Homo sapiens: one gene and its partners. The protein of the gene in region 1 purifies or fractionates together with the protein of each later gene. This does not show direct contact. Each region holds a gene or a part of one and is shown in the gene's direction. Other genes may lie near its edges.

Region 1 (3,628 bases):
TTCGTTATTGGACTATCATTTCTGAAAATGAATGACCCCTGATCTTATGATAGTCGCTAAAGAAAATATTGAAATATTAAATCACAGGACATAATACTTAAGGTAGTTCCACATTCATTATTTATTCATTAAGAATTTATGAGTGGGAAGAGGGAGGGTATTAAAAAACCACCTATTGGGTACCACACTTATCACCTGGATGATGAAATAACATGTACACTAAAGCCCTATGACAGGCATTTTACCTATATAACAAACCTGCACGTGTATCCCTGAAACTAAAATAAAAGTTAAAAAAAAAAGAATTTATAATATTGGCTCCACTAGTGTGGCAGTTTTCCTGCAATGCAGAGATCCAGAATATATATGGATGTTTTTGATAAATATTTGAGCTTTGCTTGGACATTTACATACTCTAATTCTAGAATTTCACCTGTTAGGTCTTTTCTGTGATCTCTGTTATCAGTCTCTCTTTTTTTTTGCAACAAATAGTACCTACATTGGGGTGCATGTTGTTGTGGCTTGGTTTTCAGCTTTATTCTTAGATCTTCTTTTGGGAGAAGGGTTCCTTGTATGCCCATAGGAAAGTTCAAGTACTCAAGACTGGGGCGGGCAAAGCTGTCCTGGGAGCAGAATGGATCTGTGGGAAGGAAGGAGGGAAAACGCTGCTTCTTTCATGGGCTGTTTTTGACTCTATTGACATAGAGTTTCATTGAAAATGCCATTGCTAGGAGCACTCTCCTGTTTCAAAGGAGAATGTTACTGTATTATCAGAGGCTGGGAGTTATTGTTCTCAGAGCAGATGCTTCCTGTAATGTGAGGACTTGAGGATCAAGACACTTCTCCCTGCTTGTCTTCACATCCTTTGCTTTATCTGGCTTCTCCAGTTGTAACAATATGTAGATAAACCAGGACTTCTAAATCAGGGGTCTGGATCTTCAAGTATCTGGATGTGGATTCATGTTTTGTTTTTTCTCCATCACATAAACACCAAACACCAACAAATAAATACCTTTTATTTTTAAGGGACAGAGTCTCACTCTGTTGCCCAGGCCAGAGTGCAGTGGTGAAATCATAGCTCACTGCAACTTGGAATTCTTGGGCTCAAGTGATCCTGCTGTCTCAGCCTCCTGAATCAGCTGGGACTACAGGCAAGTGCCAGCATGCTAGGTTTAAAATTTTTTTTTTTTTTGTAGAGATGGGGTCTTGCTATGTTGCCCAGACTGGTCTTGAACTCCTGGGCTCAAGCGATCTTCCTGCCTCAGCCTCCCGAAGTGCTGGGATTATGGGTATGAGCCTGATTGTTTCATTTTCCTATGAGCCACCCCCAGCCCCCCAACAGAAGGTTGGTTTTAATAAAGATTTATCTTCTAGTAAAGTTGGGTAAGGCAGTAGACTGTGTCTTAGTAGCTTATTTCCAGCAGTTTTGGATTTCTTAGAAATCCTCAGGATAGGGAGGTGTTTTACCCAAACCACAATAGATTTCTGGCTCAATTTGTGTTGGAAATAGTAATAACTAAATTGTTCAAATGGAGAATGTATTTAATAAAGGTGAAAAAGTATGGCATTTCTTCAGGGAAGAGTTCATTTGTTTGTTTGACAGATATGGGGGAGATTTTATTTACATTTCCACTTTTATGGCCAGGAGTGTAGGTTATATTACTGTTATTCATTTAAAAATACATTAATTCTACATTTATTGGGGATTGATTGTAGTTTTTTTTTTTTTTTTTTTTTTTTTTTTTGAGACACAGTCTCACTCTGTCACCCAGGCTGGAGTGCAGTGGTGCGATCTCGGCTCACTGCAACCTCTGCCTCCCTGGTTCAAGCGATTCTCCTGCCTCAGCCTTCCGAGTAACTGGGACTACAGGCATGTGCCACCATGCCTGGCTAATTTTTTGTATTTTTAGTAGAGACGAGGTTTCACTGTGTTAGCCAGGTTGGTCTTGAACTCCTGACCTCGTGACCTGCCTGCCTCGGCCTCCCAAAGTGCTAGGATTATAGGCGTGAGCCACCGTGCCCAGCGATTATGGGCTTTTTTTTTTTTTTTGGTGAATAATAGACCTTTAGAAAAAGTATTTCTGCTACACTTTGCAGAGTTCTGGGAAGGTGTATCAATGCCTTTCTAGTAGTGAGATTCAAAAGATTGCTTGTCACTGTTACCACTGTCACTGCCTCTACCACTATCAGCATCATTGCCATCAGCTCCATAGTGATTAGAACTATGTTCCTAATCTTATCTTCCTTTGCATAAAGAGTTAGTTAAATAAACATAACTGGCAAAACGTAGTAAAAGTTCAGCAGGTAATAATTACCAGAGGAAAGAAGATGGCACAGCTATTGGCATTTAAAATCAAGTCAGATTACTGTTTTGGGTGGAGAGTGAGTCTGTCCCTTTGTCTCTTCCCATATTTTTTTTCTCTTTCCTTACTGTGAAAGGAGTTCCTTGCCAAATCAAGAAAAAAGAAATTAAGAACATTTTGAGAACTGTCCTCTCATCTGTTAAGGCATATAAAATAATTTAATTTTCGTGATGTCCTTGAAACCATAATTTCTGTTTTATTTTCCCTTCTCTTGCTACAATTTGACATTTTCATTTGTAAACTTTCAGTAGTTTTCCTGAACAAGAGTCACTTCAAGTAATAAAGAATATAACCTTTCTCCCTCATTAATGAATTCATCATCATTAGTTTCATGTAAACCTGATTTAAGAAAAAATGCTAGAGGCTGAGTGCAGTGGCTCACAACCGTAATCCCAGAGCTTGGGAGGCTGAGGTGGGAGGATTGCTTGAGCCCAGGAGTTTGAGACCAGCCTGGACAACACAGTGAAATTCTATCTCAAAAACAAAAACAAAAGAACCCTTAAAACCAAAAACTCCCAAAAACCTAAACTGAAAATGCCTACTGAAATTTTGGGAACTCTGCATGGGCGTCTCCAGGTGAGTGCCTGCTGGTTTGGGGGCACCATTTTTTAAATGCTGCCAATCCTACTTCCATCTTCCCATTGAGTTACTGGGGTGGAATGTGCTCTATAAATGTGTCTGTAACTCGCTTTTTCTTTTTGCCCTAAAATCCTGGAGAGTTAATGGAGTGTTAACCTTTTTTTAAAGATTTTTTAAAAAATCTATTTTTTCCTTTGTTGTCTTTCTCACATTGACTATGATATATTTTATTTTCCATCTTGGCTCAGTAAGGGTGGGAAATTTTTAAAAATTGAGATATTAGCTGAAAAACTTAAAAAATCATCCAATTTGGTTTGGATGGTTTTCTGGTGGAAACAAAGCTCCTGAACATGCATTTCATGCCTCGTAGATAAAAATCAGTCCCATGGTCTTTATGAAAGTAGATTAATTAGTGTAGTGTGTGGGCAGATCTCCCAGAGCAGGTTTTCACAGGCAGCTTTGCCAACATAACTCAGTCTGAACCTGCAGTTATGTTAGAATTATTTTTAAAGGGTGTAGGCTTTTCATTCACACATCGTCTTTGTTCTTGTGTGTGATGTATATTAACAGGTAGGTGGTACCTGAGAATAAAGGACCACAGCATAATCACGATGTGCCTGGGCTCTGGAGCCTGGCTACCTGGGCACAGGTGCTGGCCATTCCACTTAGTGGTTGTGTGGCTGTGG
Region 2 (3,628 bases), on another chromosome or scaffold:
GAGTCATCCCTGCAAAGGCTCACCTGCCCCTACTGGAGAGAGATTTCCACTCATCCTAAAGAAGGAGCTGCCTCCAGTTTCAAAGGTTTTGAGGCGAGAAAGCTTGAGTTGCACCGATGACACAAGAAAGAATCAGCCTGTCGTTGTCTAAGGCACCAAAGGGAAGCAGTGTGCCAGGACACTGGTGACCTGAGCGGTAGATTTTCTGAGATGGTTTTACACCCTAAAACGCGGATGTAAAATCAGACGAGCTATGTGGACAGAGCAGGTTGTGTTGCTTGTATACCTGGGAAAGTGGCAGATGCTCTGAGGCACTTGCTCCTTGACCTTGGGGTTCTGTGGGTGGGCAGATGCTTCCTGAGGATGGCACACAGGTTGGGCACACTGTCAGTGTCACCGAGAAGCCACCACATCCCTGCTCATGCTGCATGCACCCATATGGGGAGAAGAGGGGCAAAGCAGATGCTTAGCTGGAGGGTAGGAGTGATTCTGTGGGGTGAGCTGGGAACTAGCCCCTCCCCCATTCCCCAGGAACTAAGAATCCTCCTCAAGGAGGTGGCCTTGGGTATTTGAGAGCTGCAGCAGCCCTCCTCTCTTCCTGGTTTACCCCACTCACCAGGGACCTCTTTGAGTGGGAGGAGAGCCTGACCCCATTCTAAGCCTCTAAGCACCAGGCATCAGAGCACGTTCACCACAAGGGTTGGGCAAGGGAGAAGAGGTCATTGACGCAAAGAGCCAGCTCAAGCCAGTCAGGCCCAGACCCAGCTGGGGCAATGCCCTGAACTCAAGGTCCCAGGGAAAGAAAGACATGGTTCGCACTTCAGAGAGTGTCCAAAGTACATGGTGGTGGAGACTTGTACGGGCGTGAGATGGAGATGGGAGTAGGCGTCATTCATCAGGAAAGGCTTCCTAGAAGTGCATTCTAGAGACATCGGGGACCAAGTGGAAGAGTGAGCTAGCACCATTACACTCATTAGAAGCCCATGCTCTTGCTATTGAACTTGACTTTTAGAGGGCATTACTTACCAGTCAGACACCCCAGGGTCAAGAGAGGGAAAATCACTTTTGTTGTGGGAGCAGTGCTCTTACAGACAGAGCACACCTGCCCCCAGTACTCCTTGGTTATCTGGCACACTGCGAGCTGTGATTTCAGGTGTGTGACAACTATGGACTTTTCCCCTCTCTCACCACCTCCGCCCCAAATACTGTCACCTTCTGCCAGATTAGCAGTGCAGGCAGGTGTGATGTTACCCTCATTCTCACCAGAGCCAAGCAGACCCCAACTACAGATAGGTCTTAGGAGATGCCTTCAGGAACTGCCTGGAAGGGCCTGCAGGCCACAAGTGAGTGACAGTCACACCTGCCTTTACCAGAGTTCATGCTGGACATGGGGACTGGCTTTGGGAACTGCAGGGCATTCTGGCCTCTCCCTCCATGTGTCTGTGTGTCCACTGCCACCTCCATGGCAGAGAGGCCTCTACCTTCATACAGAGAAGAGTGTATGAGAGGGAGGCAGGCAGGTGCAGGGTGTGGCGGGAGGAGATGGTTAGTCTGATGACCCATGGGGAGAGCAGCATCATGCTGACAGGTTCTCTCCCAGAAGACGGGCAAGAAGGCCCTGGTGCAAGCCCCCCGGGGCTGCTTCTCATAGCAGGAGGCCTCCCCGGTGCTCCATAAAGTTCTGTCTGTCACCACCCCAAATTTTCCACCCAGAAGCAGCTGACTGACCCACACCTGACCTTTGGTGAGAAATACCTGCTCACAGGGCCAGATCCAAATGAACTCTATCCTATCAAACCTTGGAAGAATGATCAAAGTGGGCTGGGTGGAAGGGAGGCAGACAAGACCTGGTGGTTGGCCACCTAGGGTCCTGACTATGAGTGTGCCTGGCTGCAGCCCCCTTCCTTGGGAGCACCAGTCCTGAGTGACTGAGCCCATGAGATTGCCTCCAGCCTCTTCCTGATAAGGACAGTCTTGCCAGAGGAGCGGTTGCTGGAGAAAGGTGGAGGAAGAGCTGTGTGCACTCTACAGGGAGCTTGGAGGAAGCCAGAGGTTCAATGGGCCACATGGCAGAGTCCCAGGATGTTGCTCATAGGCGGATGGCCCTTCTGGAGTCAGGGCTAGGCCTGGAGTATAGGGGAGGCCTCTCAGAGGACCCTGAGGCAGGTGGCAAACGAGGCGGTAGTGTGGCCTTTGATGTCTGCCCTTCTTCCTTGTAAGCTGAGCTGTGTCTCTGGAGAGGAGGAGTCGGCTCCTCTGAACGCAGTCAGGCACGTGTCACTATCATCACACCACCACAGGGCAGTGGAACTGTACGGGGCCTATGGGAGGTAAGAGGCCAACCCTCTCTTTTGACAGAAGAGGACACTGAGGCTCAGAGAGAGCAAGTGACTTGCCCAGGTGCCAGAACCAGGACAAATATCAACACCGCTAGGCCCCCAGGGCAAGCTGTGTCTGCCACAGCTTGAGACCCCTAATGTCCATGATGGAAGGGTGCAGAGAGTTGGGCAGCACTCTCTGCTGTGGGCTATGGGTGGTGACCTGGCGCTGGACAGGGGAGGTGGCACGAGGTGGGGATCCCTGCCTCATTCCAAAGCTGCCCCTTGGCTATTCCCTCTACTCCCAGCTCAGATATTCCAGCCCTGCTCCCCCAGGCAATGGCCGGGGAGCCTAAGTGGGTGTGGCAGATGGGGAGGAGCTACCTTGGCTGGGTGAGATCACTGCCCAACTCTCTTCCCCACAGACAGGGTTTCCGATGGGGGAGTCTGACCATCGCTTTAGAGAAAAGGAGTGCATATCCCTCTTAGGAGGCTCTCACTGGATCCCACTCACCTTCATCCCCCAAGGCCATCACTTAACAAGAGTGTGGGCCAGGCCACGGAGCCATGGCTTGCTCTTCGTGGAGCTCCCAGTATAGCTGAGGGAATGGGACGCAGGGCAGAATGAGACTTGGGCTACCAAGAGCAGGACAGTATGTGTTTAGAGGCAGGAGAGATTGCCTTGTGCAGAACTGATCAGAAAGGGCTTCCTGGAGTGGGTGAGGTCTTGAGCTTGGCTTCAAAAGATGAGCAAGATTAGAAGGTAGTGGCCAAGGAGGGAAGGCAGGTTTGGCATGGAGGGAGATGTGAGTAAAGTGGTGAGCCTGTCACCATTGGCCATATTTCAAGGACAGCAGGACAGTGAACAGACCAGCTTGTGCAGAGTTGATGCTATCCCTTAGGGTGTCCCTGCTGGCCAGTGAAAGGGAGATGAGGGGGGTGGCCCCACTAGGAGCCCCAAATCCAGTTCTGTTTTCTGTGATGCAAAGCCACTTTGCCACTAATAACCCTAATGACACTCTGTCCTCCTGCGGAGCCTGTCATTTGTGGGTCTCCAAGCACTCCGAAAACATTAATTAATCCTCACTGGGCCTTTGAGGTTGATCGCCGCTCCCCCTTCACCAGCCAGAGCATGTTAGAGGTGAAAGAATGGGAGGAAGTTTGGTCACTGGTAGGGGCTGGGCTGAGATTTGAATCCAGAGTCCTGTCCTGAATCAATCTCTAATCAGCTGTTGCTGCTGGACTGGGAATGTCGGAATCCTGCCTGTCTCCCCTGAGTGGGAATCTTATCCTTGTGGAACATGGAGTGA
Region 3 (3,628 bases), on another chromosome or scaffold:
ATCCTGGCTAACACAGTGAAACCCTGTCTCTACTAAAAAAAATACAAAAAATTAGCCGGGCGTGGTGGCGGGCGCCTGTAGTCCCAGCTACTCGGGAGGCTGAGGCAGGAGAACGGGGTGAACCTGGGAGGCGGAGCTTGCAGTGAGCCGAGATCGCACCACTGTACTCCAGCCTGGGCGACAGAGCAAGATTCCGTCTCAAAAAAAAAAAAAAATTATACATATATGTATATTTATATATCTATCTATATATATTTATATTTATATATCTGTCTATATTTATATATTTATTATATATAATATATATTTATATATTATATATTTATATTTATATATATATATGCACTGTCAGTATTTAGCAAGATTTATATTAAATCTTAGTATTAATATTAGTAATACTGGTTAGTATTAAATATTAGCACTGTCAATATTTAGCAAGATTTACAGAAAAAAAGGCAATGCTAAAATTATTGGGCTTCTTTGATGTTGTAAATCAGGCTAAGTCACGCTTAATGAGAAGGCGATTTTTAAGTGATACAGATTTTTTTCCTCCCCTCTGCCCCTCTAAATGATACAGACATATTATACTTACTTGTATATTTTTATAATCAAGAAAGTAGTTCTCTAGTTTGATTGCATATGTCATAGCAGTGATTTAGAATAATAACCTCTTTTTAAATGTGTTAACCTTGGTAAATTAATACACAGGAAATAGGAAGTTGATTTCTGTCTCCCAGAAAGGGGGACTTCTTATTTCTAGTCAGTTTTTGCAGCAGTGAGAAGGGTAGAGCATTGAGTTTGACACAGAACCAGAAAGGGATGTGGAAGAACATGGGTATGCTGAGAAAGAGTTTGGGGATCCAGGAGCAGACATTAAGAAGAAATATTACTCGTCATCCCTCCATGGTCTATTCAGTGTTTTTTGTTATCGATTTTTTAGCTATTACCCAAGTAAAGCAGTTGTCGCATAAAACAAAAAGAACTCAGATGTGCCAAGGGAAATTCTCTTCCCTAAGGATACAAGATTCACTATCTCTGTTCACTTTGAAATCGTTTCTTTTTTGGTTTTGTTTTTTGGCTTGTGATTACAGGATTATGTGGTTGACGGGTATTTTTTTGTTAGGTGACATTAGTTCTATAGTCATAGTTTAGTCTCTGAAACTGAAATTATCAGCAGAGTCTTCACCATCTGTTTTTGTTTCATGTGCTCCCTCAGGAAAGTTATGCTCTTTGACTTTTGCTGCTTTTGTCTTCAAATAGTAGTGTTTGAAAAACTAGTACAGAAATTTTCAAAGTTTCTGTTCTCAGGACCTCTTTGCAGTCTTAAAAATTGAAGCCCACAAACAGCTCTTACTTAAGGTGATTATATTTATTGATACTTACATATTAGGAGTTAAAACAAATTTAAAACATACGAGTACTGTACACGCAAGCATGCATCCCCTGAGTCTGAGTGAGGCTGTCACTCTAGCATCTGGAATGCTCCGTTGTATATTCAGGAGGGGACAGTGAAAAAGACAAATAATAATGTCTTTGTATTATGAAAAGTTTTGATCTCATAGATCTCCTGAAAGTCTCAGGTATCCCCCGGGGGTCCCTGGGCCACACTGTAAGGAACTGCTGCCTACTTTTTCCCATGGAATGTGAATCAAAACCTGTTGAATTTTAGCTGTAACTTAAGCCTAGTTTATATTTGTAAAAAGAAAATGTACAGAAGATTGTTTACATAATGATATACAACTTTAAATATTTTCAGCATTTACCTTATATGATGGGCATGAATCTAGAAACATGAATAATTATCAGACTAGAACCTTCTAATTTAAATATCTAGGCTTCAGCCTGCCATTGTTATAGTTCAATCGAAATGTGTCTAGCTGATTAAAATGTCTACTGAAAGATTTATTAAGTTTTATTGGCCACTCTGGCCTTGTATTAATCTAAAGAGGTCTCTAATGAAAAAAAGTCAAATTAACATGTTTATGTCTATAAATGCCACAAGTAAGTTAAATTACATAACTTTGTTAGCACTCTGAATAAAATGCCTCATAACTTTTGTAAGTTAGCCATTGAGTCCTCAGGAAAATGTATTTCTTTTCCTTACAGAGTTTCTGCTATGGTGCTGGAAAATCAGTTCATGTGCTGAGACATATAGGCGGTCCTGAGAGCGAACCTCCCCAGGCACTTCGGCCACGGGATAGAAGACGGCAGGAGGAAATTGATTATAGACCTGATGGTGGAGCAGGTGATGCCGATTTCCATTATAGGGGCCAAATGGGCCCCACTGAGCAAGGCCCTTATGCCAAAACGTATGAGGGTAGAAGAGAGATTTTGAGAGAGAGAGATGTTGACTTGAGATTTCAGACTGGCAACAAGAGCCCTGAAGTGCTCCGGGCATTTGATGTACCAGACGCAGAGGCACGAGAGCATCCCACGGTGGTACCCAGTGTAAGTCAGCAACTCTTTTATTCTGCTGTCCCTTCATTACTGGTTCTAAATCCTTCTGGAAGAGGTCTGATTGTTTTTACTCTTTTACCCCTCACCCTTAATTATATCATGAGTGATACAGCCACTCACTCTCTCCCCTTTCTGGTCAAAAGTTAGTTCAGCTTCCTCAGAAGAAATAAAATTAGATTTAACTTTTATGTAAAATACAATTTAACAGTAGTTTGTTAGAGCAGATGGTAATTCATATGAACCTTCATGGGAAGCCAGCGTATGAGCATGACAGAAATTTCTATCTTTGAAGAGATCAGAGAGAAGGCATCACTGAAGGCCCGGAGCTCTAGGGAAGGTACAGTAGAGCCCTAAAGGATTAGCTGGATGGAAGAGTGGGCTGGGGCCAGGGATCAAAAACATTGCTTCCCCAAATCTTCAGTGTCATTGGCTGGCTAGACTATACTTTTTACCTGTAGAATGGTAAGAAGAAGTTTTTCACCATTATCAGTCTTTTAAAGGGACATTTCCATTTCTGTTTGAGAGAGGAATTTGTATTGTCATTTGAAATGTTTAAATTGCAGCTGTTAAACCTTTGAAACAGTTATGAGCATAATAGAATCTGGGAAATTATAGAATCCCTTCCCATAGTTTCATATAAAAATAAACATATCTACATGTATCTAGAAAGATGGACCAGGCGCGGCGGCTCACGCCTGTGATCCCAGCACTGGGAGGCCGAGGCAGGCGGATCACTGGAGGTCTGCAGTTCAAGACCAGCCTGGCCAACGTGGCAAAGCCCCATCTCTACTGAAAATACAAGAAAATTAGCCAGGCGTGATGTGGTATGCACCTGTAATCCCAGCTACTTGGGAGGCTGAGACAGGAGAATTGCTTGATTCCAGGGGGCGGAGGTTGCAGTGAGCCGAGATCGTGCCATTGCACTCCAGCCTGGGTGACAGAGTGAGACGTCGTCTCAAAAAAAAAAAAAAAAAAAAAAAAACAACTTAAGATGGTCCTTCCAGCTTTTATAGTTAGTAATTACCTGTCACCTATCTCAGAAGTCTTCCAGTGACTTCCTATCTCACTTGAGGGGAAAGCCAGTATTACAATGGCCTGGAAGCCTCCTTGGTCTCCCCTTCCCCCACATCCACTACCTCTCTGGTCACCTCTTCTCCCTCCGTGCTTACTC

The links.
Region 2: the proteins of CD109 (region 1) and PKP1 purify together in Homo sapiens (affinity purification with mass spectrometry; one large-scale study listed by BioGRID and IntAct). This does not show direct contact.
Region 3: the proteins of CD109 (region 1) and CLCC1 fractionate together in Homo sapiens (co-fractionation; one large-scale study listed by BioGRID). This does not show direct contact.

What each region holds. Positions count from the first base shown.
Region 1 is NC_000006.12:73,699,075-73,702,702, forward strand, and holds part of CD109 (CD109 antigen isoform 1 preproprotein), read left to right. Parts: intron 1-3,628. UniProt on the Homo sapiens protein: Modulates negatively TGFB1 signaling in keratinocytes.
Region 2 is NC_000001.11:201,289,966-201,293,593, forward strand, and holds part of PKP1 (plakophilin-1), read left to right. Parts: intron 1-3,628. UniProt on the Homo sapiens protein: A component of desmosome cell-cell junctions which are required for positive regulation of cellular adhesion.
Region 3 is NC_000001.11:108,935,897-108,939,524, reverse strand, and holds part of CLCC1 (chloride channel CLIC-like protein 1 isoform 1 precursor), read left to right. Parts: intron 1-1,216; exon of another isoform or gene 1,217-1,359; intron 1,360-2,106; coding exon 2,107-2,448; intron 2,449-3,628. UniProt on the Homo sapiens protein: Anion-selective channel with Ca(2+)-dependent and voltage-independent gating. Permeable to small monovalent anions with selectivity for bromide > chloride > nitrate > fluoride.